Regions from separate parts of the Homo sapiens genome. Here regions 2 and 3 are each linked to region 1. Evidence: fine-mapped expression QTL. A gene starts in region 1. Each other region holds a variant in brackets. All regions are shown on one strand. Distances are from middle to middle.

What was found. PIP is the estimated chance that this variant, and not a neighbour inherited with it, causes the effect.
Region 2: its variant is the best candidate, but not a certain one, in a credible set for the expression of FBXO34 in cerebellum (GTEx, PIP 0.53).
Region 3: its variant is the best candidate, but not a certain one, in a credible set for the expression of FBXO34 in whole blood (TOPMed, PIP 0.58).

The regions. Positions count from the first base shown.
Region 1 is chr14:55,267,674-55,276,033 of GRCh38, reverse strand. FBXO34 (F-box protein 34) reads right to left here and starts at 4,613. Exons shown (of 2, transcript NM_017943.4): 1 at 4,497-4,613. It overlaps FBXO34-AS1 (FBXO34 antisense RNA 1), which reads left to right and starts at 3,956. Exons shown (of 2, transcript NR_184222.1): 1 at 3,956-4,152. RefSeq lists a silencer at 4,062-4,561.
Region 2 is chr14:55,330,690-55,338,689 of GRCh38, reverse strand. All of the region lies in intron 1 of FBXO34 (F-box protein 34), which reads right to left. Among named protein-coding and RNA genes, the nearest start is that of FBXO34-AS1, 63 kb to the right of the region's middle. The variant C/G (reference allele first, on the strand shown) is at 4,404.
Region 3 is chr14:55,344,171-55,352,170 of GRCh38, reverse strand. It overlaps FBXO34 (F-box protein 34), which reads right to left. Exons shown (of 2, transcript NM_017943.4): 2 at 1-1,790. The coding sequence starts at 1,780. Among named protein-coding and RNA genes, the nearest start is that of ATG14, 64 kb to the left of the region's middle. RefSeq lists a silencer at 2,510-2,559. The variant A/G (reference allele first, on the strand shown) is at 3,957.

The sequences.
Region 1 (8,360 bases):
TCTAAGGAAGCCCGAACTCACCAAGTTCCATTCATTCTAGCACAATCTCAATCTGTGGTTATCTAGGCCCTTTGTCTGTCTTGGGCTATGATAAGCTATTCCCTATTCTTTTTAACTGAGTTTCTAATACCTCCTTAAATTGACCTTTAACTAACACCTCTGGCCAATCTAGCATAACATAGTTTATCCTCGTTTTTTTTTTTTTTTTTTGAGACAGAGTCTCGCTCTGTCACCCAGGCTTAAGTGCAGTGGCGCCATCTCGGTTCACTGCAAGCTCTGCCTTCCGGGTTCACACCATTCTCCTGCCTCAGCCTCCCAAGTAGCTGGGACTACAGGTACCCGCCACCACGCCTGGCTAATTTTTTGTATTTTTTTTTTTTTTTAGTAGAGATGGGGTTCCACTGTGTTAGCCAAGATGGTCTCAATCTCCTGACCTCGTGTTCTGCCCGCCTCAGCCTCCCAACGTGCTGGGATCACAGGCATGAGCCACTGCACCCGGCCAATAGTTTATCCTCTTGACCCAACTCTAGCCTCTCACACCCAAGACCCATCATAGCAAGGCAATGTTAAAACAAAGGTTAAGGGTCCTTGCAGCAAGGATATATCATCTCTGTGTCACAGTCCCTATCTGAGTACCTGGCACAGAAATACTCAAAAAAATGTTTGCTGGATGAATGAAATCCATACCTAATAATGCAATAACCACACTTACATAGCACTTAGTTTCATATTTACACCTATACTCTACTGAGGATAGGAAATGTACATGTTAGGTTTCTGAAGCTGAATATTTTAAAATGGATTACTGAGAGCCTCTTCTGTGGAGCATTAACTAGAAGATGGAGGTGGGAATGAAAGGTTGATAAGTTCTTTTAACCAACACTAACAAACAACTACACTGTATTAATGCTCTCCTGGAAAATAAAGTATGTCATCAGCTTCAAAATACCATAAGCATTAACTAAAGGGGAGAAGATAAATTATGCAAAGATAAGAACTGACAGGAATTCAATTTCCAGATGACCTAAATGCATTTCGAGTTAATCTGCTCTTTTTTGTTTTTGTTGCTTCCAAAGGACTGCAGATTATGCACTTGCTGAATTTTGCCTTTGTCACACATGACCTAACAAGGAAGGCATTCATCATACCATAGTAGCTTCCCTCAAGTATCTGGTTCTAAACAGCTGCAAATTTTGGAAGATAACACTAAATGATGTCTCTAAAGATAAGTATGTTTTCTCCCAAACAAATATTAAAACAAGATTAAAGTTACTAGAACATAAAAACTGTCAAATTAAGCTAGCTGAACATAAATTAAGTTTAAAAAATAAAGTAAAAATTTTTAAGAATTTAAATTCTAAATGTTAATAAAATAACTGATCCAATAAACATATCCTGAGGAATTTCTACAATACAGCACTCTCATCTTGACATTTGCTTTTATCCATCAGAAAGATGGATAACGAATGACTGTTTAATTTAGTGCCTTCAAATTATATAAGTGAATAAAATGACTTAAAATAATAAACCAATCTCAAAATTAATTTCCATAAAACCATTTATATGAAGTAAAAGCTGCTTCCCAGACCCAAAACTGGAAAGCATGGGTGAAAAAGATCCTGCCAAAAATAGAAACAGACTGTAAAAATGTTTCACACGAGTTCTGGCTTGTTAGATAATTACACAACACTCACAAGCTGGCTTTTTAAATATCTGTCGTTGTCCCTCAGTCACATCAGTATGCACTATGACATTTATTCTTCACCTATTAACTCATTTTCCATGAGGAAAAATAAAAACTTCCTAACTGCTAAGCAAAATAGAGAGGAAAAATGCACTGCCGAATAGCAGGTATCTCCTTATCAGCTGCAGGTCTTTCAACTCTTATTTAGTCTGACTTTCATCCTTTCCCATTAATACTAGCACACCTGGCCGAGAACGGTGGCTCACACCTGTAGTCCCAGCACTTTGGGAGGCTGAGGTGGGCGGATCACGAGGTCAGGAGTTCATGACCAGCCTGGCCAACACAGTGAAACCCCGTCTTTGCTAAAAATACAAAAATTAGCCGGGCATGGTGGCACGCACCGGTAGTCCCAGCTATTCGAGGGGCTGAGCCAGGAGAATCGCTTGAACCCGGGAGGCGGAGGTTGCAGTGAGCCGAGATCGCACCACTGCACTCCAGCCTGGGTGACAGAGCGAGGCTCTGTTTCAAAAAAACATACAAAAAAACTAGTACACCTAACTTACATACAGCCGTGTAGCCGGCCCCAGAATCGCTACCGCTCGGGAAAGACACATGCAAGCGTCCATTTTGGACCTCCTTCAATTGCATTACATAGTATCTTGCCAAGATTCTTTCATCTTAAAGGTTGACTAACACTCTCAATATCAGCAGTTGCATAATAATTCAAGTGCCTCTCAGTCTCTGGTGATCCAAAGGCTCAAATGTGTATCTTTCATACAAAATTTTGTATACAAAATTTGTACATACGAAAAATAATTTGTATACAAAATTGTATCTTTAGAGACTTCACTCAACACTGTCAGCATAAAATTCCTCATTTCTTAAAAGAAGGAAGAAAAAACCAGAACAACTTTCAGTAGCGCACACAATGCTGTCAAATTCCCAAGGTTGTGGTGAGGATCAAAATAACATGTACAGGAAAGCCTTGTTTTGTGAACTTCCAGTCAAATCCAATAGTACCTAACGGGTAAATTTTTGCTTTTATTTCCTGCCTGAAAATGGGCATAACTTCCATCTGCATGTTGATGTAAAACCCAGAGAGACAGTATCTTATCAATCACCTCTAAAAGGCAAATGGGGAGCAGGAAGTATTGAGAGAGAGGAAAAAAAAAAAACCGTACCATTACAAGTCAAGGTCAGTGAGGAAGGATTAAGGACTTCTACCCAAGCTTCCTGCTAAAGACTAACTATGCTTCAAGTTTAAGCCATCTACCTTTTGAACTAGATTCCATTTACATTATTCTACAGAGGAGGAAATGAAAAGTACTGATATGCTGGAATACCCGAAGAGGGTCACTATGACAAAGTGACTAGCTTCTCTTCCAGTTAGATCTCTTCTGAAAGCTTTGGAAGAAAAACAGTATTCACAGACAAATCATTTTTTTATTCTCTAATTTCATATTTAAAAGCACTACAGACAAAATTTTAGTTACCTATCCAGACAAGCGGTCCTGGAATATGTTTTTATATTAAGTTATAGCCGGGTCTCAGTAAGAAAGCAAGAAAACAGCTTGTTGCTGACTTCTAAACCATGGTAGCATGGGGTGGTAGCATGGTACCATAGGGTGGGATAGGGACAACCTGGATAAATTAACTCCTCAGGTAATTATTATTTAAGACAAATGTTGGATTAATTCAAACTCCTCCCTCCCTTTACAACAGAAAAAAAAAATCATGTAAGATCCACTCTCCCTCCTCCTGGCCATTTTCTAACAAAAAATGCTAACAAGCAGATAGATGTCCAGTTAAAAAAAAAAAAAAAAAGCAAACTGATTTATCAACACTAGAAGTGGTTCTCTTTTTTTTCAGTAATTCTGATTGCAAACTATCAAACTACGAATTTAGCTTCCTAAAAGGCTTTTTACATTACACCCTCCAAAAAACCTCCTACCCTGACTTAAGTTTTTCTAAATCAAATGTCTTATACTGAGCTGTACTCGCAACGCTTGCTGGACAAGAAGTTAAAGAAATTGACAACTATTACATTAAAATTGCAAAATGCTGATACCGAACAACTTTCGATTCAAATCCACTGCGATTCCAAGCGTTCGTGGAAGACAACTTCCTTTTTCTACCCTGCGGGTCCCCCCGGCCCTTCCGTGAGCCCAGGTCCCCGCCCGGGCCTGCAGTGACATCCCAGGACCCATCTTCTGACGTCACAGACACACGGACCCACAGCCCTATGACTTCATCGTGGACTGAGGACGAACCGCAGTCGACTTGCGCCAGCCCAGAGGCTGGGGAGGCGTCCGAGCCTCCGTCCCGCCTCGTCGTTGAAGAAGGTTAAGGACAAGCGCCAGCTCACCTGCGCTGGGGCAGGGAAGGGCAGAGTGGCCGAGCCCGGGAGGGCGCGACAGGGGCGAGGCGACCCCAGTCCAGAGGCTGACTTCCTCACCGCCCTGGGTCCCGTAAGTGGGAGCGCCGGTCCGGTGCAAGCTCACGGCCTATCCGTGAATCTCCTCGGCTTCAGCGGGGACCCAGGACCCCGCTCCCTACCCGCCCGACCCTCCGTGGCCCGCGGGGACGCTCAGCGCCCGGGCCGTGCGCGCGGAAAGAGCCGCACCGGAGGAGGCGCAGGCGGCCGGGTCCCTACCCCGGACCCGCGGGCGGCGCCCCCGCCCCCACCCCCACCCGCCCCGCGCCCCGGGAGCGCAGGCAGGCGGCGGTAGGGGGCGGGGAGCGGCCACGGTGGCCGCCGCCGGACCCCAGTCGCGCGGCCCTCGCGCCACGCCCCACCTCGGCCCGGACCCACCTGCGCTCCTGCCCCGGCCGCGGCCTGGCCCGGGGCTGCACCAGCCCGACGCAGTGGTGGCGGCAGCAGCGGTGGCGGGAGGCCTGGCTCACTCCCCACCGCTGAGTCGGACCGAGCACCCAGCGCGGCGCGGCGGCGCCCAACGCTCGCCCCGAAACCCATTTGTTTGGCTAAAACGGAGTGACGTCACGCGCCGGCCCAATCGACGGTTGGCCGGGGGAGGGGCCACGGATCCAGAGTTTCACGGCGCCCCCTGCCGGACACTGGGGGCGGGAAGGGGGAAGTGAAAAGGGAGACCTGGATGACGCGTCTGCGGCCCCCAAGTGGTAGAGAATGAAAGTTTGAGCACGACTGTAGGGAAAGGAATCAAACCTCCCAGGCCAGCCAAGAAGGGTAGTGACGCCAGGGTTCAATCAGCAGACATGTCAAGTTTATGAATATTCGTGGGTGGACCTGAAGCTGTAAATGGTCTCAGATACTATTAGATAACCTAGTAGACCTGGATCCTCATACTGGTTCTGCTGCTAGCTTGGAAGGCTGGGGTTCAGAGTTTCAATTTGTAAAATGACAAAATTGGAAAGGTCCCTTCTGACTCTCTTTCCTATGAAAATCATGGCAGGGATACCGGTCAGAAAGTAGATAAACGTTGAGGCTGACACGAAACTGTTAAAGTCTGTAGAAGCTTAAGGGCTGGTTAATGATGGATATAAATTTTTAACACTTTATATTCAAATCAGAGGGCCAGTGAGGAACTTTTGATTCCCAATCTTTAAGCTTATTATTGTTTTCATTGTGAAAATAATATTAACCACATTGAAAAACATGAGGACAATGTATTTTCTTCTAGACCTTTTGCCCCATCACATATATTTTACTACACTGTAATAGTAGTTGTACGCGATTTTGCATCCTCTTTTCACTTTTATAAGCATTCCTCATATTTCCACATAAGCTTCATAACCAGTTTAACAGCTGCATAAAATTACATTAAGTGGACATAAAATTTACTGCAGTAATTCTCTATTTTTGGACATAACTTGTTTCCTTCATTCACTTTTTGCCATTATAAAGAAATCATAGAACATCTTCATGAATGTAGATTTTTAAAGATACCCAAAAGTGAAATTACTAGGTGAAAAAGACTATCAACACTTTCACAGTTACTAATACAAACTGCCAAATGATTTTTAAAAGGTTGTACCAAGTTACACTTAAACCAGCAACTTTGATTTTAGCCAGTCCTTAACAAAAATAATTTTGTCCAATTATAAAACTACTGTTGTAAAATATATGTGTAAAATCTTAAATATTAAAACGTAAAAACAAAATAAAAATATTTCCCATAATCTCATCACCAAGAAATAACCACTCAGTATCTCCATCTAGACCTTTATCTATATACATATTTTTAATAAAAATTGGAGAGGGGAAGTCCAGGCACGGTGGCTCACATCTCAAAAAGGAAAAAAAAAATTAAGGAAGGGTGTTATATGGTACACCGTGGCATCAAACTGTATGTCTGATTTAATATGTGAGCAATATTAGCTCAATATATCATGATCATTTGAAGCTTCTTTATGTCATAGTTAGCTCAAAATTGTAAAACTTCAGTTTATCCTTTCAGATTCATCTCAAACACTGTCCTTCTTAAAACCTCTTGATTCCTTCTGGGCATGGTGGCTCACGCCTGTAATCCAAGCACTTTGGGAGGCCAAGGCATGCAGATCATTTGAGGTCAGGAGATCAAGACCAGCCTTGCCAACATGGTGAAACCCTATCTCTACTAAAAATACAAAAATTAGCCCGGTGTGGCAGGGCACGCCTGTAGTCCCAGCAACTTGGGAGGCTGAAGCAGGAGAATCGCTTGAACCTGGGAGGTGGAGTTTGCAGTGAGCTGAGACCACACCACTGCACTCCTAACTGGGCGACAAGAGTGAGACTCCATCTAAAAAAAAAAAAAAAACAAACAAAACTTGATTCCTGTTGATTAGAGGACTCAAAAAATTGATATAAAAATGAAATTAATTTTAAAAGACATAATAAAAGCCCGAACTATTAATTATTATATTTTTTCATCTTTTTCTTGAGGCAGGGTCTCACTATGTTGCCCAGGGTGGTCTCAAACTCATGGCCTCAAGCAATCCTCCTTTCTCAGCCTCCCAAATAGCTGGAATTACAGGAGTGAGCCACCATGCCTAGCCTATGAATTATTGATTATTAAAGTCCACAGACATAAAATTATTCTGTCAAATTGCTAGTAAAGTTTCTAAAATCTGATTCTCAATTTCAGTTCTTGTCTCAGATTGGCCAGTGAACCACACTTTAAATAGCCCCAGTCTAGGAGAAAAGAACTAGGAGAGAGCATAACCATGTTAGGCAAGAACTTCCCTTGATTTTGTTTCTCCATTTGTATAATGGCAATGATCCCCTAGAAGCAAAGCCAGTAGAGCCAGTATAGTTTATCAACCCACAGGTCCTGTGGTAGGTCTTCAGGAAGGTGCTCCCCAGGTGGGCATGGGGTGGCACATTGAGGCCATGGGACTGGTGAGAGCCGAAAGAAGAACAAGACTGAGGTGGCACAGCAGCAGAAAAGTTCTAAATATATATAGTATATATATTTGGTTATTCCATTAGTAATTAAAACTTAGTTGTTTCAAGCCAGCAAACATATTAATTAAAACTCAGTTCAAGGGATTTGTCTTGTATAGACTTGGTTTCATTTCTGTTCTTTGCTCAGAAAAAAAAAAAAAAAAAACTAAGAACTTACTGCTTATTCCTTAATAAGCTTACTCCAACCTCCAAATAAAAACACCCACTGCTATGGTTTGAACGTGTCCCCCAAAGTTTATGTGTTAGAAACTTAATCCTCAATGCAACAGTGTTAAGAAGCGGGACCTTTAAGAAGCAATTAGGTCATGAGGGCTCCGTCCTCATGAATGGATTAATGCCATTATCAAGGGAGTGGATTACTTATCAAGAGAGGGAGTTACTATAAAAGCAAGCTTGGCCCTCTCTATCTCTCACTCTGTTAGGTGTTCTCTTGCTCTTCCACCTTATACCATGGGATGATGTAGCAAGAAGCCCCTCAAGAGTTATGAACCCCTTGACCTTGGGCTTCCCAGGCTCCAGAACTGTAAGAAATAGATCTCTGTTCTTTATACATGACCCAGTCTCAGGTGTTCTGTTATAGTAGCATAAAACAGACTAGGACACCCACCATTTCATCTTCTCTCTCTCACCCCCCAACCCTCCTTATCAAACTTACTTCCCCGCTGCTGGAGAAAGGAAACCAAGAGACAGGCTCCATTAGACTTTGCATCTAGACCTACTTTGCTGCAGAACCTAGGCCGCTGGGTGTGATAATGCCTTTCCCTACCTACTTGACTGTGTTATTATAAAGACCAAATAAGAAAAGAGAAGCAGAAGTGCTTTTAAAAGTTTCAACTTTGCAAAAGTAAAGCATGTACTTAAAAAATATGCCTGGAATGTGGCCGTTGGAGCATGCTTCAAGCCCTGAGCTTATGCCCAGGTTTATGCATGTGTGAAGCTCATTGGTGATGACGGGGGGATGGGCAGGAGCTACTCAGCCATGAGAATATAAATATTATCCACAATAAATAGAACAACTCAGGGAAAACTAGAGCACCAAGGCAGCACACTGTCTAACAGATATGATTCTATCTTATAATTAAGATGTGGATGGTGAGGGACATAAAGTTGAATAAGTATTGAAACCCAGGAAATCATAGTTCTTATCCTTCTTATCCTTCTTTTTAGATCTTGTGCCCCTGTGAAAATCTGATAAGAGCTAAAAATCAAGAGTCTCTTTGGAGACTCTTAGCAGAAGTAAAAAAGCACACCCTG
Region 2 (8,000 bases), 63 kb before region 1:
TGATGCACCCACCTTGGCCTCCCAAAGTGCTGGGATTACAGGCGTGAGGCACCACGCCTGGCCTGTTTTTAGGCCTAAGAAAAGAAACCAAGGTAGAGCTAGAGATAAAAGGTAAAAATGAGTAAGAGGAGAATAACTTGTTTTTATTCTAGAATAATAACAGCTCTAATACCTCTACAATGTTTACTATGTGCCAGGTACTGTTTTAAGCTCAAAATACCCATAAAACCCCAAGAAGTACATACTCTTATCTACAACTGTAGATGAAGAAACTGAATCAGAGATGGCTTAAGGAACTTACAAAGATCAAGGTCACAATACCCATAAAAGAAGTCCATACTCGCTGGCCGCAGTGGCTCATGCCTGTAATCCTAACACTTTGGGAGGCCGAGGCGGGCAGATCATGGGGTCAGGAGATCGAGACCATCCTGGCTAACACAGTGAAACCCCGTCTCTACTAAAAATACAAAAAATTAGCTGGGTGTGGTGGCACGTGCCTGTAGTCCCAGCTACCCAGGAGACTGAGGCAGGAGAATTGCTTGAATCCGGGAGGCAGAGGTTGCAGTGAGCTGAGATCGTGCCACTGCACTCCAGCCTGGGCGACAGAGCGAGACTCCATCTCAAAAAAAAAAAAAAAAAAAGAAGTACATACTCTTATCTCCAATTGTAGATGGAGAAACTGAATCAGAGGCAAGTTAAGAAACTTGCTAAGTTCGCACAGGAAGCATATCATAGAGCTCAATATGTGTGCGGTCAGGAGTCAAAGCCTACGCTCTTACCACTACACTATGCAATGAGGAAAGGAGATTCTGAAGGGCCCATGGCAGGGTACTCCTCAGCAAGCTTATCTTCAAGTGGTAAGTGGAGTATAAGATGTGTGACTGTGAAAGGAGGCAGAACTGTGGCTTCAGGTTCAATTCTGGATGCCTCAAGTTTGACACCTTACTTAAAATTAAATTCATTTGTTTATCAAATATTTAACTTCCCTCTAAGTGTCGGATATTGTGCTAGCCTGCGGCTTCAGCATGAACAAAACTGAGGAATTTCTGCCCTCAAGGCACATTTGAGAGAGATGCATCAATTCCTTAGTCTTTTCATTTCCAAATCTGTAATTTTCTAATGTATTGAAATCAACTTAGCAATAAAAGCAGCCATCATTAGAAACATTCAAGTTTTATTTTTGGCAAAAAGAGACTTCAAAAATTGAATATGATAGTCTTGAGCGGAGGCCTGAGGACGATGACATTATCAAAGAGTAAGGCTGGTACAACTATACAGAACACATGGAAGAGAACATGCACAGATATACTGTTGTGGTGTCAATTTATAACGGATTTATTTACAAAAAATTGTTCCATAGAATGAGAAATGCTAGAGAATAGAAGAAAATAGCATTAAAATATAACCATAAGCATGGACCAGGTGCAGTGGCTCATGCCTGTAATCCCAGCACTTTGGGAGGCTAAGGTGAGTGAATCCCTTGAGTTCAGGAGTTAGAGACCAGCCTGGGCAACATGGTGAGACCCTGTCTCTACTAAAAATACAAAAATTAGCCAGGCACAGTGGTGGACATCTGTGGTCCCAGCTACTCAGGAGGCTAAGGCAAGAGGATCTCGAGTCCAGGAGGTGGAGGTTGCAGTGAGCCAAGATAGTGTCATTGCACTCTAGCCTGGGCGACAGAGTGAGACTGTCTCAAAAAAAAAAAAAAAATAAAATAAAAAAAAGAGTGAAGAGACCTACCAACCAAACACACCACATAGGATTCTGAGTCAGACAGACCATAAAATAGTATATATGTGTGTGTGTGTGTGTGTGTGTGTGCGTGCATGTATATATTCTATATGTGTATAGCATTTTTTTTTTTTACATTTCTGGGAAGTTCTCAAAATGTGTGTATGCATTTTTGAGTCCTCATCTCTTACAGATACATCCTGAAATACTTTTAGATTAAATGATATAATGTCTGGGATTTCCTGCAAAATAAAATGGGAGAAAAGAAATGGTTGGGAGTATTGAGCAAACAAGACTGGCTATGAGATGATCAACTGCTGAAGCTGCATGATGGCTAAGTGGGGGGTTTCTCACTACTATTTCTGTACATAGCTAAATTTTTCCATAATTATTGGTTTTTAAAAAGGAGAACTAAACAAATGGGAGCATGTGGAAAACACTGGATGAATGAGCCTTAAAATGTTCATTATGTACATACAGTGTAGACCCACAAACTGTCCGATTTGGAGTTAGGAAACTGGAATTCAGTGGTTCCCTGGGCCAGGCAGCTCTGCAGGGACTGATCTGAAGTCCCTCCCAACTGAGCCCCAGGCTGTCTGATGCAGTTGCTCCTTCCTGGTTCAAACAACGGGCACCAACATAAGTTCTTGCCCTATTCTACACCCATTACTGAAAACTGAACAGGAAATAAATCAGAAAGCAATTTTTAAAAGATAAAAAGAAAAGGAGACAAACACATGGGAAGTATAACAATAAAAAAGAACTGAAAGACAACAGCAGTCAAGACCAATCAATCCAATTCCTAATTAAATACATATAATTTTCAGTCCCTCATTCTGTAATCTAAATGAGCAGTTTAATTAGTACCTGAATCTGCCTTGTATAAGTGCACTTAACTTTCATACTTTAAAGACATATATATATAAACATTTAAATAAATGCATAGGAAATTTTACCATTCAAAGGTATCTCATTGGAAATCCTTTTATAACAAAAATAGTCACCTCCTACATTCAGTCATGTAGGAAGGGAAAATGACAGTACTAATTTTAAAATATTAATAGTGATGTAGCCATTAATATTTTTTGAACAGTTGGCATGTAGTTATACATTGCTCTAAAGAGCTTCATTATGTATATATGGATATAAATTTCATCTTCAGGACAATTCTATGAGCTAGATATAATAATTATTCCCATTTCATAAACATGGAAACTGATTGATTAAAAGTATAATAAGCATTTTTAAATGATCAATTATACAAATGGCAGTTCATCTTATATACTAAGTACTGGGTCATTTTTTAAAATGTGCTTTATAGAGGAATTTTAAACAAAGCCAAATGCACACTCATGTAACAAACAGTCAAATAGTCAAATGAGTTGCCTAAAAGTCACCAAATTGGTTGTACAGAGGTTCCTACATACACTATACTTATTATTGTATTTTATACACCCTCTAATCCCAGTGGTTCTTCATTATCTAAAAAGAAATATAAGTCACAGATCAAAGTCAGAAGTTTGTTTTAACAGAAATGTTTCCCATTGCCCAGGAAATGGCTGAAGATAACTGAACATACACAGACTCAAGATGAACAAAAAGCCAAAGGAAAGCATTACCTACCATCAACTCCTTAAGGGCAGGATCCCAGGTATGACATTTTTATAACCCCCCTACCCCCAGGATCAAGCACAGAAGACTTTTCACATAAGAGGCACTTTTCCATAAAAAGTAAACACCACAAACTACAACTGCATTCTAGTCCCCTACATCTTCAATCTGATCTCCAAATAAAGGAGGAAATAATGCTAAGGAACTCCTTTGACTAAAAGCACCTGCCCTTCACCTGAACTCCTTTGACTTGAAAACACCTGCCCTTCACCTGCCCTCCACTCAATCCACTGCAATGGGTCAACTTAACTTGCTGGGTGGGAAACCCAGTTTGAAAAGGCAAGCCATCCCACTCTGGGGACCATTTCATAAACCCTATTCCCCAAATCCCACTATACCTCCCACAAGGAAGAGTTTGTTCTACCACAAAACTACCTTATTTCTCTAGAAGTCTGACCATCTTGTCACCAATGGATGAAAACTCAGCGCAGCAGTGGTCAATCTTTTTTGGATGCTGGACCCTTCCGAACATGTGAGAAAAGGTCTAAGTTCTCTGCCACCCAAAAATACCAAAGCACATACATAAGTGATTTTGGTAGGATTTTGGGGAAAGCTCCAGGGCTCCTGATGAAGAGCTTCCGCCTGAGTTCCTCTAACTTGCCCTTCATGTTCACAGTGGCCTGATCCTGTCAATTTTACTTTTCCTCTCTGCTTTGTGAGCATCTTTATCATGCTTTACCCACTGCAACTACTGAAACCACTTCTCCAACTGGCTCCTCGTTGCCCAGATCACATCTACTGCCCCACCCCCACCCCATCAATATTACCCAATGGCTACTAACTACATGCCTCCGTTGAATTCCCAGAACTGTGCCTTCCCAGTTTCTACCCTGGGACACTTCCCAGGTTCTACCCTGTCTTCAAGATAGAAGTAATCTTATTCTTTTCTGTGTCCATCACAGGGCACACAGCACAGTGCCCTGTACATGTAAGTACTCATTAGAGTGAATGTGCATCAAACCCTAAGGACTTAAACCAGCCAGTCAGCAAGCATCTCATAA[C/G]TGGAAGTTTATGAGTCTGACTAATCAACCCTTGAGCAGCCCATGAACTTAATGCAATTAAGCAGCTCCACCTGATTAGCGCCCTGCTTTCTCTGAGATGAGCGGTGGAAAAGGTGGAGAAAAAGAGGCCACTCTTCATCTTGGTTACTGTTCTGCAAAGCACAACAGGCTCTGGCTTGTGTAGCAGCTTTTTTCCAGCACTCTATTTACTAAAACATTCCTATGTAATCAGATTTTAAGGAAAATTCTACTCAGCAGCCATGTGTAAACAAACACTTCCACAATAAAGTTATTTAACTTAATACTATCAGTTTAACTAGAATAAAAACAACTTTCATGTTGTTAATAACCTCCAGGACGGAACAATCTAGACACGCAGGCATTCAGCTATGAGTTAGGTGACCTCCCTCTCATTTTCAAAGCACCAAACCACATCCTTTAAATACTAAAATATACAGACACTAAGTCCCAACAAGAAACACTATAAAGTCTCCCCATGAGTCTTTACTACATTAAACACAGCTGTCTAATAGGGTCATGTTTACATAGATTTAAAAAAAAAAAGCCACCCCAGCATTAGCACTAACAAAATTCCTGATAAAAAAGACTCCTACACACCCAAACTAGAAAGGAACAGGACACCAACAAGCTTAAAAATACTTCTATCTTTAAGGTTTATGTTATAAAAACATAATTAAACTATATCCTGTTAAGTTTACATTTTGGTTATTTCTGTGTAACAGTTTTTATATATTTTTAAGAGCCACAAGGTTTTATTAATTACTTCAATAGGAAACTCACTTCCCTGGTTCTAGATTGTCAAGTATGCACAGTTCACACCCAGAACCATTAGGTACTTCAATTATTAACAAACCAAACCACAAAGGAGAATCTGATACCCAAGATCAGATTTTAGTGCTGGGTTATTAGATGGTAAAACTAGAGCACAGCAAACAGCAAAACCAAGAGGGTCGAAGTAAAGGGGAATGTGGTAATAGTCAGAAATTATACAAAACTCCCTCAACAAAAATTTCTGAGAGTAAGCTTATTCTCACTTTCCTGTTACCAATCTTAGAGACAACTAATAGTACAAATAAAGAACAGTAATCATTCCAGCAGTAACCACAGACTGCTGGGATTTGTGTCTTGTGGGTCCAGCTTTTTCCTTCTCCCTCAAAGCAGGAGGCAAGGTCACCTTGTAGCTAACAATAGCCCACTAGAAAGAGAAAACACGCACATCTTCCCTAAACATAACAGCACCTGAGCTGGAAGGAATGTTTTAAATCGACAAAGTATTTTCACAAACATCTCATTTGGCCCTCTTTCTGTTCCCAAATTCACCTGCATCTTGGGGCTAATGCGCCAGCTGATCAATCCTTCTCCCCAGTCTCTGTCCGCTAGTGGCTCTCATGTCACCACAAACAGTGCCTCGTACCCCTCAGTATCTCCATACCTCACAACCTGCAACCACTGCACAGAAAAGATAAAAGTTTAGAAAGTGAAACTTGCTGAAGATCACCGTAGCTACAGAAGTAGCCATTACATCAAAAGTCAACATTTTCTGATAAACTAAAAGTTCAAAACATACCACATTTTAAGTTATAAAAAAATCTAAATAATGAGGTACACCAAGTTCTCCCTATGAAAACATTTGACAATATGTCCATACTAACACTCAGTCCCATCATGTATTATACTTCCCTCCTAGTTTTAGAAAGCAAAGTAAAAGACAATCTGAGAAAGAGCTTTTTATCCAAAAACACTTCTACAATAATCAACAAATAATTAAACATTACCCAGATGCAAAACAGAAGTTAATCTGCATTACCTGGGATCTTATGAAGAGGTGATAGCTCCAGACCTCGGTTCACACTTAGGCAGACCTTTTAAAAATCAGTTCATTTTTACATAACGACACTTTGAAGGACAGTAACATTTGCCATAATTATTGCTACTATGTATGGAATGTATAGGTGAGAAAAATGCCCAAGGATAATCAAAAAGGATGTACTTTAGAGCTCGTGCATTTACTAACGATTTAACACCTACTATGCTCCAATGTGCTAGCAAACCTGATTTAATGAATGAAAATGAAAGCCAGAAGATGTGTGATCAAAGATTCCAGTTGCAGTTCAAGTGGAGAAAAGTAGTGAGAATGAGTTATATATTAAATTTATATATATATTTAAATATATATATATATTTATACATACCACCACGGTGGTATATATATATATATTTTTATATATACCACCACGGTGGTATATATATATTTTTATATATACACCACGGTGGTGTATATATATATTTTTATATATACACCACGGTGGTGTATATATATATTTTTATATATACACCACGGTGGTGTATATATATATTTTTATATATACACCATGGTGGTGTATATATATATTTTTATATATACACCCCGGTGGTGTATATATATATTTTTATATATACACCCCGGTGGTGTATATATATATATATTTATATATACACCATGGTGGTATATATATATATATATACATATATATATATATACACACATATATATATACATATATATATACATATATATATACATATATATATATATATACACATATATATATATACACACACCATGTTGGTATATATATATTTTTATATATTTTATATATATTTTTATATATTTTATATTTTTTTATATATATACACACACACCATGTTGGTATGTGTGTGTGTGTATATATATATATCACGCCTCAATTTAGTTTTCCAAACTCTAACCAAATTAATATCAAAATAATATTGAGGTGTTATGTATTTATTTGCTCTTTATAGCTGCATATATATTTGTAACATAGAAATTAGAAAATTACATCTATACTGAAGAACCTCAATACATTTCTTCTTTTGGATATAATTCATACCTTACTCAAATTTACAAACTACTACTCCAGAACAGAAATTATTCAGTGCAGGAGAGGATGAGAGTGGCATAGGAAAAGCCATTAATATATTTTTACCAGAGAAATTCAATAAAAACCACAAAGAAGGGAGAAATTTCTAGCCAGTCTCCTCCAAATATGCAACACTGGAATTGTGCTCAAATTGAAACTACCTAGTGGGGCCTAAAGAGATCAGGGTATTATAATAGAAGCCCAATCTGTAACCTTGGTGAATTTTCTTCTGTTTCACAAGTCTAAAAAAAATTTCCTGTCTCTAATTTGAATGTTCAAGCAATCATTTCTCCTATTCAAATCCCACAGTTTGGGAGCTAAATTATCAAACAGATCTTTTATTCACTCACTCAATATATACTGAGCATCTGCTATGTACCAAGCACTCTTTCAGAGACTGGGGATACAGAAGTGAACAAAGCACAAAATCTCCATCCATAGAAAAGGTTATGTTCTAGCTGAGAGACAGATTAATAAGGTACACAGTATATAAAAGGCTATGGAGAAAAAAGGGAGCAAGGTATGTGTGTGCCATACACAAATTACTGATTGATTGAACCAGGGTCTCACTCTGTTGCCCAGGCCGAGTGCAGTGGCGTGATCACTGCTCACTGCAGCCTCGAACTCCCAGCCTCAAGCCATCCTCCCACCACAG
Region 3 (8,000 bases), 76 kb before region 1:
TCTTGGTGGGAAGTAACCTGAAGATTTTTACCATAATGTGGTGGGGCAGAAAAGCCATGTACTGCTGAGGCTCCAAAAGCTGCTGGATTTTAAACCTGGTCTCCAGGAAGTCATGCGACACCTGCTTCTTCCAACTGGATGCCTCAAGCACTGGTAATGTACTTTCCACAGAAGAGGCTGGCAGTACAAATGGCTCAGCAGACCCACTTTTTTCCTCAGATGCACTGTCACCCCCAGCAGCATCTTCAAGCTGGCTGGCCTCTGAAGACTCTTTTGTTGTGCTTTCATTCAACTGGGAATAGTCTGACAAGTGCTGACCAGGTGGCAAAAAAAACAACATCCCTGGAACTGGGTCTTCACAGGAGTTTAAAATGGAAGGCTGGTCTTTGTCTACCTTGGACACAGTGATACTAATGCACAAAGATTCTTTTCTTTGATCAGGATTTCGGCTAGTAAGGGACACAAGCTCTCTGCTCATACAATCAACAGCATCTGTGGGCAATTCAGAGGCTTGGGAATAGGTATGAGAGGAAAAAGGTAACCCAACGAGTTCATCTGTCATTTCCACATCATATCTGTTGCTGTTTTTCACGGCAGTTTGCGAACCCGGCTCTAACTCTGCACTGTCTATGTGGAAACTCACTCCTGCTGGCAATGGGGGGCAGTCCTGAGAAGCACCGTCCCAGGCCTGGTCCTCCTTAGGAGAACAACGATCAGCTCTTGAAGGGCCACAATCCACAGATACAGACCCCACAGGATTCACCTGAGTGTCAGGTGCCTCCAAGACGCCTTTCTTTGTTTTGCCTTCATCAGCCTGAGTGCTATTTGCAAGCAATACTCTGCCCACATTTCGACGGAAGCTGTTATTCCTTGAGAGGCTCCCAGGCTCACGCTGGCCCTGCCGCTTCAGGCACTCAGACTCCAACTTGGCTACCATGTCAAGGACACGGACTGGTTCGCTCTGTGGTTCACCAACCTCAAGATTTCCCCTTTCTGTGGGTTCTTCACAAGCTCCTGGGGCAGAATAGGACTCAGACACTGCAGGCACACCTCTGGATTGGCCAGAAAACCTCACAATTGCAGGTGAGTTTGTGCAGTTTTTTGAACAGCTAGCTAGCAGAGCACTGGCTCTTTGCTCCAAGAAGGCAACCATCTGTATAACTGACAGAGGCCTCCCAGCATAGACTCCATCCCCACTGTCACTCACATAGTGCACAGAACAGTGCTCAATGCCACATGCAAAAGGCTCAGGTTGGTAGCACCTGCTGTTAACCTCCCTCATCCTTTCCACCTGTACCTTGGCTTTTTTAAGATCCCCTGATTTTTTCCTTCTCTTAGTAGCTCTCCCATCAATATCCCAGGAACTTTTTATTTTCATAGATCCTATCCTGTTACTACACTGGTGGGATGCAAAGAATGCAATTTTTTCCTTGGTATTTCCAGGTTTCACAACAGCCCAGATATCAAGTGGTCCTTCTTCTTCGCCCTGGTGGATCGTTGCAGATGGTGCATTCTTTTTGGTTTTAACATTCAAGCTGCTCTCTACAGGACTCTTCCCACTCATACTGCACAGAACATTTGGAGAAAGGATCCCAAATGGCTTTCGAGATGATGCTTTACCGAGAGAGGCTGAAGGAAAGACACTTGATGTTATGTGGCTAGCTTTGCATGTTTCATCATTTACAGCCTTTTGGTGGTTCATAGGAGTTCTCTGCGTTTCCCTGCTGACTTCCGGGGGGTGCTCTTTCTTCTGGAGCTTCCAATATGGCTTTAGGTGCATAACAAAGCCCCTATAGGAAAGAAATACACATTTGATTCAGAAACCAATTTTGTTTTTAGAAAAAAATGTTTTTAAATTTAAGCTCAGATGGTTCTTAGCAACTAAGAAAAACATGTTCTACCAGTTCATTAAATCTTTACCAACTCTCTCATGATAGTTTTTACTGCACATATCAAGAATAACAAACAGCTACCAGTTTATATGGTGTGTAGTACTTTTTTTTTTTTTTTACAGAAAATAAATTGGTTTTGACTGAAGAACTTCAGAAACTGACTTCAGTTAACATTTGGTAAACTTTAACCTTTTAAATTAAAAAAAAATCTGAACTTCCTGAAAACAACTAAGTATTAGGCATAGTACAGAAGAAAGGAAAGTATAAAAAGAACTCCTCCAAGATCCCTACTAGATTTTTAAACACCCTTTCTAAATCATCACAATTCGCATTTTATTAGTTGCAAACAGCCCATCAAAATTATTGCTTCCTGGCCGGGCATGGTGACTGACGTCTGTAATCCCAGCACTTTGGGAGGACAAGGCAGGCGTATCACGTGGGGACAGGAGTTGAAGACCAGCCCGGCCAACATGGGAAAACCCTGTCTTTACTAAAAGTACAAAAATCAGCCGGGCGTAGTGGGGCGTGCCTGTAATCCCAGCTACTCGAGAGGCTGAGGCACAAGAATTGCTTTAACCTAGGGGCAGAGGCTGCAGCCAAGATCGCACACACCACTGCCCTCCAACCTGGGCAACAGAGCGAGACTTTGTCTCAAAAAAAAAAAAAAAAAAGAAAATTATTGCTTCCTAAACTATTCCCATACCACTGAATACTGAATATTTAGATGTTTACAATTTTTCATTTGCTTCCTGTGTACTTTGCCCATCTATTAGTCTTGATTTTCTAAATAATCTATGTGTAGAAACATTTAACTGTCGAATTTCCTGTAACCATCTTAAATATAGACCCTACAGTCCTTATTAATTCTAAAACCATTTTAAACTAGTTCAGAAAGATGGTGCCTTGTTTTGGTCCTTGGCCAGGGGTAGAGATGGGAGCTATTTCAGAAACGAGACAAAAAGATGATTACATGCAGAGACTAGTGTTCCAGTCCCTGCCATATCAGTGATTATCTAGACATGGTGATTTTACCTTGGGCAAGTCACTTCCTCTCTCGGTCTCAGCTGAAATGTTAACTGAGGGGCTGAAATACTAGATAACCTAATGAACTTGTCAATGTACAATTTACATAAAACAGCCCACTGCTACACAAAACACCCTGGATTGAGGAAAGAGTGTTTTCTAGGGATGGCTGGACTCCTGCAAAATAAACCTAGAAACTAAAGATCTGCAGTCCCAGTTTGGTGGGAGTGAGGCAATAGTACCTACAGGTCTAAGCACGTGAAGTTTCACCTACTCTTGCTCACTGGGACAGCAGCTGAACACATACATCTCAGACAGCTCAGTATATTCATCCTCCTTTGCTCCACATTTACTGGGTACCTGCCATATGGCAGCCTCTGTGGTAACTGATTTCAGGTTATCAGTTTTAATCACCAAGAATGAAAGTGATCGTCTGGAACAAGTTTACCTTTCACCTTCAACTTTTAAATCCTACATTCTAGTCTCAGATAAAAGAATTATGGATATTGATATCTTCTAGCCAGATAAAGAGAAATTTTGCATTTAAAGCATACAAAGTGTTTTTTAAAAGTTACCCCTGAAATAGGAGCCAGGCATGGTGGCTCACACCTATAATCCCAGTGCTTTGGGAGGCATAGGTGGGAGGACCCTTTGAGGCCAGGAGTTTGGGACCAAGTTTATTCCTAGTGATTAAAACTGGTATCTGAAAACAGTTACCATAGAGGCTGCCATATGGCAGGCACTCAGTAAATGTGGAGCAAACGAGGATGAATACACTGAGCTGTCCAAGATGTATGCTTCAACTAGGAAAGCCTGGGCAACGCGGCAAGACCTCATCTCTAAAAAAAATTTTTTTTTAATTAGCCAGGTGTGACGGCACGTGCCTGTAGTCTCAGCTAATGGGGTGGTTGAGGCAGAAGGATCTATTGAGCCCAAGAGTTTAAGGTTACAGTAAGCTATGATCACACTGCTATACTCTAGCCTGGGCAACACAGCAAGACCCTGTCTCCAAAAACAACAACAACAAAAAAACCCAACCAA[A/G]CAAACCCAACCAACCAACCAAACAAAACCTTTGAAACAGATCTTATCAGGGTCTTTCTGATCTTTGGCAATTTATAGCCTAATCATCTGTAGAGATCTTCCCCCTTTCTGCACTGTGACATTTTTAATAGCTTTCTATCATTATACTGTATAGTCTTACAAATAGAGCTACCCAGAATTCAAGAACGGATGACATATAAATGAATAAAAGAGGCACACCTAGTGCTCTCTGTGCCAACTATTTTCTACATTTTCATATCCGTTCAACCCCATTCCTAAATGAAAGAAATGGAAGTGTTGAAAAACCCAATAAATTCTCACATAATGATCTCATTACACAGTATCTATGAATAAATTTAAACTTTAGCAATATGTGCGCCATTGTGCATTGCACAATATGTTCTCTTTGACTTCTTCCCCCATATATTATTTTAGGTGCTATTATTGATAGAGAGGGACATTAAAAAGAAACTAATGTAATTACAGAAGGCTTTTATTTGCATTCCAGCTTTAAAGTCAGCTCAACTAACACTTTGTGTGCAAGATTTTAGCAAGATTAAAATAGGAGGTGATCCCAGGGAACAGACGTGAGGGAAGGAAAATAGCCAGTAAGGACACACAGGGTGACTGCTGCAAAGTGGGGTGATTCTGTGAGACCCCTGAAAGAAGCAGGACATTTAGGCACCAGCTCCAATCCCTCACTGGTTGAAGGTTGCCTGAGGTTAGCCTTTCCCCATCATTTGCTGGGTTTGAGAGCCCTGAGGCAGAAAATAGAAAGCTGTTGGCAAGACACAGAGAAACTACAAAAATCTAAGTTTTGTTTGAAACCAGTGATGGCCTGAGAGGATATAATGCAGGGAGCAAAGGGCATCTGCTGCAAAAATCCATAAAGCAAAAACTTTAAATCTCCAACAGATTACAACAGATGGTGGCACTTTCCCACCCCCAAGTCACCCCCACACACAAAGGCAGGCATGGGTGGGGTAAAGCTCCAGCTAGGTTTCCATGGTTGCCAACCTCTTCATCACAATTGTATTTTAAACTGTTGCTATAATAAAGTCCTGCTCTCTTGCAATAAAGTAAAATGCAGGTTTATAGCACCTACACATCAATGTTCTTCAGATTCTCAGAAAGGCCCTTAGAAGAAATTAAGATCCCCTAGGCCCGCTGAATCACAATTTCTCAGACTGGGCCCAGAATCTGTTTTTAATGTTAGGTTGAAATTGGAAGGGACTTTAGAGGTCATGTGTTAGATCTAATGTAAGAGTAGGATTCTGGATGTGGACTGGGGTGCTGGGCTACTAACGGGTAAGGTGGAACTGCCCAACAAAATGCCAAGCAGACAGTCCATACTGAAGCATCTCATCTAAGGGCTGGGTAAAAACACACCCGTTTTCTTGATATTTTCTTTTTAAAACACAATAAACTCAACGGCCTTTTTTCTCTTAATTTCCTGGCTTCTAGAGCTGAAGGTCAAATGGCCTTTTTATTGCCAAATTCCCTCTTCAACCACCAGCTCCTCAGTTTCTTTGACATAGACTTCCCAGCTCTCTTCTTCCCCAGCCCCTAAACATCAGTGTTCTTCAGAGTTCTTTCTGTTTCTAGACCACTACTCTTCTTAAGCTATATATCTAAGTGATTTCTTGTAGTTTTAACTCAAACATTTCCAGTGACACACTCTCCCCAACTTCATATCCCACAGCCTGGTAGACATACTCACCTGGATATCAAAAAGAATCTCAAAATCAACACTACTAGTTAATGATAGCCTCAAGTATACCTAGTCCATTAAGCCAGAAGCTTGAGTCACTTAGATTCCTCCTTTCTGATCCCCACATCTCATCGCCAAGTCACTAAACTGTGCCACTCTTTATCCCTAGCACAACTGCCCTAGTCATCTCTGCTACACTGTCATCAGTTATTGGAAAACCTAACCTCTATCAATACAAGCAAAGTGCTGAGGCCCATTCCAGCCAACCTGACAGCTTTACTCCTGCTTTGCTCTACCATACTTCACACTTTGAAAGCTTGTTCACAGAACCATGACTACTAGACTAGGTAGTGAAAGCCAATTATATTAAGATACAATTTGAAGGCAGCCAAGACCAAGACCATAAAACATGTAGCATCAGATTTTTTATACTAACCTCCAACCTACAAATGTTCATTTCCTTCTACTCATTTTTTATTTATTTAATTTCGTTCTTTCTGAGGCAGGGCCTTCCTCTGTCACCCAGGCTACAGTGAGTGGCGTGATCTTGGCTCACTGCAGCCTCAACCTCCCAGGCTCAAGCAATCCTCCTACCTCAGCTTCCCAAGTAGCTGCAACCACAAGCACATGCCACAATGGCCAGCTAATCTTTTTAAAAATTTTTTGTAGAGACAGGGTCTCACTAAGTTGCCCAGGCTGGTCCTGAACTCCTGGGCTCAGGTAAGCCTCCCACCTTGGCCTCCCAAAGTATTGGGATTACAGGAGTGAGCCACCACACCCAGCCCTACCTGTTTATTATCAGAAATGTCCTAACCGCTCTGGGCTAGACACTGGTATAAATATGAGTAAAACATAGTTGCTGCCCTTGAGACAGAAAAGCAAACAATTACAACAAATGTTATATGTGTCAGAAGGATAGCACAGGGTGCTGTGAGAGCCCATGGGGAGACGGGGAGAAGAAGGAAGAGGTATGGATGAAGAGGGAGAAGGGGACATCAGCACCAAGCTCACCTGAGGGTATAGGAACAGGTCAGAGAAGTCCTGATTTTCTAAGCTAAGCCCTGAGGGAAGATACGCAAAGTCCTAAGCCTTCAAAAGTGGATGATGCTTTTAGGAAATTCAGGTAGGTGGGAAATAAAGAGAGTCTAAGTTAAGGTGCTAAGAGTAGAGAGATGACAAGTAAATGGGTTCACAGGAATAACAAGAAGGTTTCTAACTACTGACTGAAAATGGAGGATGAGGGAGAGGAGTCAAGGATGGGTCCTCATCTATGGCTTCAGCAACTACATGAAGAGTGATGCCTCCCAGTGAGATGGCAACAGGTGGCTGAGCATACTTGGAGCAGGGGAGGCAGAGGTAAATTCACTTTAATAAATGTTGGGGTCATCATTTGACCCCATCATCATCCTGAACTCCTGGACTCAGGTAAGCCTCCCACCTTGGCCTCCCAAAGTATTGGGATTACAGGAGTGAGTCACCACACCCAGCCCTACCCGTTTATTATCAGAAATGTCCTAGCCGCTCTGGGCTAGACACTGGTATAAATATGAGTAAAACATCGTTGCTGCCCTTGAGACAGAAAAGCAAACAGACAATTACAACAAATGTTATACGTGTCAGAAGGATAGCACAGGGTGCTGTGAGAGCCCATGGGGAGAGCAAACTAACACAGGAACAGAAAACCAAACACCGCATGTTCTCACTGTGGGAGTTGAACAATGAGAACACATGGATACAGGGAGGGGAACATCACACACTGGGGATGTTGGTGGGTGGTGGGGGTGGAGGACAAGGGGAGGGAGAGCATTAGGACAAATACCTAATGCATGCAGGGCTTAAAACCTAGATGACAGGTTGATAGATGCAGCAAACCACCATGGCACGTGTATACCTGTGTAACAAACCTGCAAATTCTGCACATGTATCCCAGAACTTAAAGTAAAAAAAAAAAAAAAAATACACATACACAAAAATTAACATTGGGCTTGAGTGCCTACAAGACAGAGATATCCAGGAGGCGAAATGACTCAGGTCTGGTCAAGAGAAACAGGAGGAAAGGAAGAAGACAGTTGTCACAGAAACATTTCAATGAGGAGAAAGTTTTCTGGATAGAGATAACAACTCTTTTTCCAAAATTTTTCACAATGACCATGTATTACTTTCATAATCAGGAAAAAAAAAAAGTCTGTAAAAGGAAGGCACAGTCAGCAGCAAGGTCAAATAAAGAATTGTGCCCACTTGGTGATAAAGACCCCTGGTGACCCTGCTGTGAGGAAGTACAGTGGACAAGAAGTCAAAAGTTCATGATGGAGGGGTGACTAGAAGGTGAGAGG